Homo sapiens: one gene and its partner. The protein of the gene in region 2 interacts with the protein of the main gene of each other region in a pairwise test. Each region holds a gene or a part of one and is shown on either strand. Other genes may lie near its edges.

The links.
Region 1: the proteins of ITGB2 (region 2) and UPK1B interact in binary tests that used the Homo sapiens proteins (3 or more experiments, as listed by UniProt).

Annotation. Positions count from the first base shown.
Region 1 is NC_000003.12:119,183,595-119,187,420, forward strand, and holds part of UPK1B (uroplakin-1b), read left to right. Parts: intron 1-3,119; 5' UTR 3,120-3,147; coding exon 3,148-3,216; intron 3,217-3,826. UniProt on the Homo sapiens protein: Component of the asymmetric unit membrane (AUM); a highly specialized biomembrane elaborated by terminally differentiated urothelial cells.
Region 2 is NC_000021.9:44,885,406-44,887,955, forward strand, and holds the end of ITGB2 (integrin beta-2 isoform 1 precursor), read right to left. Parts: intron 1,498-2,550; coding exon 1,331-1,497; intron 1,026-1,330; coding exon 963-1,025; 3' UTR 548-962; downstream 1-547.

The DNA of each region.
Region 1 (3,826 bases), on a different chromosome or scaffold from region 2:
GCTTCTCCCCCTAGATCCTTCAGAAGCAACATAGCCCTGATTTTAGCCTGGTGAGACTCATTTTAGACCTCTGCCCTCCAGAACTGTAAGATACATTTCTGTTATTTTAAGCCACGAAGTTCGTGGTAATTTGTTTCAGCAGCAATAGGAAATGCAGACCTGAAAAACCCATCTCTCAGGTCTGTTGAGAAGATGAATATCAAATGCCTAACATAGTGCCCAGAGCATTGTAAGTGCCCAATAAATGGCAGTTTTCATCACTATTTCCTTATCTTGGAAGACAGGAGTAGCTAAATTATCATGTGCCATTGATACCAAAGGCCTAAGGGAGAAGAAGAGAATGCATAGTGAAAAAGGAGAACATTTTAGTGGCCAGAAAATTCAGAATATCTTGCCCACTGACATATCACCACCTTCCAATAACCAACCCACAGCTGGGCTGCCTCCCTGGCATTTCTGTCATGTCCTTGCCTAGGTTTCTTCAATTTATGCTTTTCTTTTTGCTCAGAGCAAGTTTCTACCTTCCTTCTTTTCTCCCACTTTTATCTGCGTTTTCCACCCTAATTGTGACTCCTGCAATTCTCCCATAGAATATTCATTTGCTCTTTCCCCTTTGTCTAAACTCTGTGTGGCAGAGTCATCTCTGGAAAAGTCTGTACGTCACGGGGCATAATTGGGTCACCCAGGCCACCTCCCTTGATCGGGGCCCCTGCAGTTCCTTTCTGGACCAATAAAGCCCCTCAGCGGTGCCTCTGTCTTTCTCCACAGCCCTCCTTGTCCCCTTGATGTGCACGGTCATTTTTCCTTTGAACCCACGCTGTAATTGCACTTTAAACTCCTTGAGGCCAGGCGCAGTGGCTCACGCCTGTAATCCCAGCACTTTAGGAGGCCAAGGCAGGAAGATCACAAGGTCAGGAGTTCGAGACCAGCCTGGCCAATATGGTGGAACCCCATCTCTACTAAAAATACAAAAAAAAAAAAAAAAGCCAGGTGTGGCGGTGGGCACCTGTAGTCCCAGCTACTAGGGAGGCTGAGGCAGGACAATAGCTTGAACCTGAGAGGCGGAGGTTGCAGTGAGCCAAGATCGTGCCACTGCACTGCAGCCTGGGCAACAGAGCAAGACTCTGTCTCAAAAAATAATAATAATAATAAAAATAAACTTCTTGAAAGAAGAAATTGTCTTATTTCACACAGTACATAATCAGTACGAGTTGATATCGGTGCTGAATTTGGCCTCTACTGATTTCTGCCCTTTCCTCTCTATGCTTCTGTTATCTGAACTCCTACGTTTCACAGTCTATTTACTTTTGTCTCTAGTTTAGATACTAACCCAACTGGTCAGGAATAATGTCTGTACATACCAGTAATGAACTTTACAATGTGACTCAACCAGCTACATGAGTAAGTTTCCCCCTTGGGGGAGTTTGTGCAGTCTAACACGCAACAATAACTGGAAAGAATGAATGAAATTTCTAAGCAGAAAGAAATGAATGGCATTTCTAAGCAGAAACTACACAGAGACGCAATGGCCCAGATTCTTCCATTTCTCCAGCAAACATGAATTGAGTACCCACTGTGTGCCAAATTCTGAGCTAAAAGTGCTCATAAATTTTAACTGAACTTGTCACAGCTACCCAGGTAAACAGATAAAGGAAAACATTTAGAGATGTCTAAACTTACTTGGAAGGTTGTTAATACTTACAGTGTAACAATGAGGTTAAAATTTAGCAAGGCTTGAGACAAATAGAAGGTTTGCCTCCCACTGCTACCCTACAAAACTAGGACTTTGACCAAATTGACTGGTTTGCTATCTTGTGGGCACCTTGCTCTTCTGTCTCTACTCCCTAACTTTTCCTTTCTCTTTACCTGGAATGTCACCCACCCCCACCTCACTCCCACACATATCCACCTCTACTCTACATATCAAACCATACACATCCTGCAAGACTTACGTCTTCCCGCCTCAGGACTCTCACAATATTTCATCTCACTACATGTAGTATAATTGTGTGGGAATGCATCTTAGTTTCCCTACTAACGCAAAAAATCCTAGAATACAATAATCTCCCTTACATATCTTTGTATGCCTCAGAATGCATATTGAACCATTTAATACATTTTTTATTTACAGCAGGAATGCATGAATTGATTAATTAAATGTTGAGAGCTGTAGATGGCTTTTCTCAAGGTGCTTCAAGTGCAGAAGCCCAAGTGATTGACCCACACACTTACCTTTGTGTTCCTTCCAGAAAATCCTCAGGGAGGTGAGAGACCCATGTTCAGCTGTGTATGGCACCAAAGTCTATACATAGTTTCTGGGAGTCACTGTGGGCTGTGGGGAAGCACGTGGACTCTGGAGTCACACACACCAAGGTCTCTAGCCTAGCTCTGCCACTTACTGGTTGTGTGACCCCAGGGAACTTAATTTACAAATTTAAGCTTTAGTTTCCTCATCTGCAAAATGGAGCCTCCTCGCCTTTCTTCTTTTGCTACCGAACTGGGTTATGAGAATTAGATGCGTGCATGCAAAGCACCTGGTAGAGTGGCACACACCTGGCAGAAGGAAGTAAATTCTAGTCCCCGTTTTCACTTACCCTCATATACAACGGGGCACTTTTTTATTTGCCAACTATTTCTTTGAAGATAATAAAAGAGTCAGAAAATGATAGTTTTTAAAAGCACCCTGCAGTCCACATGGGAACCAACCACTACCTCTGGCCATGAGTTTACCCTTTGGGTTTCCATTTGTCATGGCCAAGGGCAGTGAGGGCTATGCCAGGGACCCTCAGTGTGTTTGGCCCTACCCAATCACCATCTCAGGTCTACCCCTTGTGCATTCCACCTTGCGGGGCTCAGTCCACCACTCAGAAGGATGCATTCTGCACACTCCTTGCCTGAAAGAACTCCTGAAAGGCACTGACCAGGCTCTGGAAGGCTATATTCTTTTCATTCTTTATAAAAGTTATGTGATTACCAAGCTCAATAATCAAATGTCCTTCATCGCTAAAAGATTATATGGCTTTGGTTTGGATGCTTTGGGAACAAGGAGGCAATACGCAATGGCTTGGTTTACTCATGTTACAGAAACTGTAGCAGTTATTTGGTAATGCTTTCAACAGTGCCTTCAGCTTGTGGGAAATCCCGAAGATGGCCAAAGACAACTCAACTGTTCGTTGCTTCCAGGGCCTGCTGATTTTTGGAAATGTGATTATTGGTGTAAGTAATGATTATTTTCCAGGAAATTCTGCACTTCCTGTAATCATAATTCTAGATGAATCAAAAGTAAGAGTTTAAAGGAAAATAATGCTGTGATTACTGGCTTCCTATATTTTTGCTTCATTTTAAGAAATGTGTTAGTAAATATGCTAGCTAGAATTTAACTGTATGTCAAAAGATCATGGTTGAAAAAGTAGATATTTTCCTCCCAACTTTAAAATATAAGTATCTAAAAGGAGTCATGTCAACCATAGTCAGTGTCTAAACACTCTGACTACGAACACACTTCACTATTTCTTTTCTATGTCACCTTGGTTTGATTTCCATGGGACTCTGCTGTTAAGGTTTTTTGGGACAGATGCTTGCATCTTGTTCTTCTCATACAGAGGCCAGTACCAGGGTGTAAGAATAATACAGAGGCCATACTGTGTGGGTCTGGTGGCATAGAAGAACATTTGTTTTGGAGTCCAGAGCTCTTGGCCCAGCTCTCCCTCTGACTCCCCATATGACTCTGGCCATCACCTTTCAAGGCTGAGATTCCTCATCTATAAAATGTGGGTGTTGGCAAAGATAAGCAGCAAGGTTCCTCTCAGCTGTCATTGATAAATAT
Region 2 (2,550 bases):
GGGAGGTGTAGACTGCTGGAGGGGAGGTGTAGATGGCTGGAGAAGAGGTGTAGATGGCTGGAGGGGAGGTGTAGACTGCTGGAGGGGAGGTGTAGACGGCTGGAGAAGAGGTGTAGACGGCTGGAGGGGAGGTGTAGACTGCTGGAGGGGAGGTGTAGATGGCTGGAGGGGAGGTGTAGATGGCTGGAGGGGAGGTGTAGAGCTGGAGAGGAGGTGTAGATGGCTGGAGGGGAGGTGTAGATGGCTGGAGGGAGGGCAGACAGGTACCCGCTTTCCTGCTTTGCCTCTGCCCTGGCCAGGCTCCGCCGCAGGCACCTCTTTGGTGGGGCCACCACCGTTTACGGAAATGCACCTAGGATTTGGGACAGGGCCTCAGAGCGGGGCTCTGTATAGACCAGCAGGTGAGGAAGGAAAAGGGAAAACAGAACCTGCCCCATGGTCTGAAGCCAGCTGTGTGCCTGTGTGGCAAAGGTCAGCGGGCAGGACAGGGCCCACGTGTGCCTGGCCACCTTGCCAGTCGGGGGAATACAGCGGACACAGTGCCCAGTTTCCATGGACAGCCTGTATTGAAGTTTTATTTTTTTTCTATACACGTGATTGATTAACAATATAATTAATGGGATGTCATTTTATACCCTGACAAGTTTAAATGTAAATAAATTGGCACCACCTTTAATCAGACTGATGTCCTGACTTGCACAGGAAACACGCACCTAACCTCACCAACCTCAAGCCCTCCCTCCTCAAGTCTCCATGCAAAGACTGTGCCAGTCAGAGTGGAGCTGTCCCCCCGACGAGCCCCCAGAAGCACCCGGCCGGCCATGGCTGTCATTTTGAGGGCGGAAAATAACTGGATTTCTGGTTAATTGGTGACATCCTCAAGAGCTGTGGCAAGCCATGTCTCGGCCGCGTGATGGGGCAGACATGGTGGGTCCTGACGGCCTTGTCTTCACCAAGTGCTCCTAACTCTCAGCAAACTTGGGGTTCATGACCGTCGTGGTGGCGCTCTTGAAAAGGGGATTATCCTGGTGGGAAATGCAAACAGGGGCTTGTGAGTGTGGGAGGTTTTCAGAGCAGAATCTTTCTCCCTGAGGACACTCCCCGCATGGAAGCCGTCACTTTGAGGAAGAGCTAGACGTGGGGCAGCCCCCCCAGGGTCCCAGCACCGGCAGCCAAGCTCACCCACAGCGGCGGACGCCCAGAGGACAAGCTGCCTGGGGAGGCCGGGGTGCAGCCACACACGGGTGTCCACGGCCTCCCGCAGCAGGAGGTCGCATAGTGTGGGACGCACGTGCCCCTCTGCGTGGGACCCCCAAGGACGGCCACTTACATTGTTCCACTGGGACTTGAGCTTCTCCTTCTCAAAGCGCCTGTACTCCCGGAGGTCGCTCAGGTGGATCAGAGCCTTCCAGATGACCAGCAGGAGAATGCCGATCAGCACGATGCCTGCCACGGTGCCCCCGACGATGGCGGCGATGTTGGGGCCTGCCACACACTCTAGGGAAGAAGCAGCACACCTGAGCGTCAGTCCAGCCCCATCTCACTGAGCCGTGTGCCCACAGGTCCGAGGTCACCCCACAACACAGCACTTAGAGAGACGGAGGTTCCCAGGGCCCCGGCTCACCATCCATCACCATGGCCAGGGGTCAGTGAGAACCTGGCCCAGCCCCTGCTGGATTCCAGGCCAGGCCCTGTGGTTCCAAATGAAACCTAAGGGCCATTGCCACCACCCCTGCTGACAGAGAAGAAGGCAGGGCCAGGGTACCGGGCAGCCAGGACAGAGTGCTAATACTGGGGGGTAGGACACAGTGCGAGGGACCCCGCTCTCCTACAGCAGAGTTCAGAACCAGGCTCAGGGTCCCTGCTGGAGTTCACTCCCCATACTGTGAAAGTGATTTGTGGTCGTCAAGGACAAGACCAGAGACCAGAGCTCAGCAGGTGAGGCCGGTGCCAGGATGAGCAACGCAAGGTCCTGGTTCCCACGGCAGCTGTGCCCACCTCCTGAGCATGGGGACTGTGGGCCATAGTGGGCCAGGCCCACAGCTGCTGACCCTGGGACAGACACTAGCGTTCAGTGCAGTCCCTGGCCTGGTCTGGCATCCTCACTCCCTGTACCCCTCCTGCCATCCTGACCTGCACCCTCACTCCCTGTGGTTGCTCCTGCCATCCTGATCTGCACCCTCACTCCCTGTGCCCCCTCCTGCCATCCTGACCTGCACTCTCACTCCCCGTGCCCCCTCCTGCCATCCTGCCTTTCCTGGGGGACCTGCCTTCCTTCACCTGTCCTCAAAGGTGAAGTGACTTGGCCAGGATTGCACAAACCAGACGTGACCCAAGTCTGTCCCTCAAAGTGGCCCGCAGGGGTTCCTGCCCTGGCAGGTGGGGGTCTGCAGCCCCAGGCCCACATGTGGGTTGTGAGCTCCAGGCATGTCACCTACAGGCTCAGAGACCCCCGCCGCCTGCCTCGGGTCCCTTCCTGGTGAGGGAGGAGCTCCCAGGTCTCAGTTCTGCAAGAGTCCTGGCCGGCTGCTGGCCATGCCTGATGGAGTC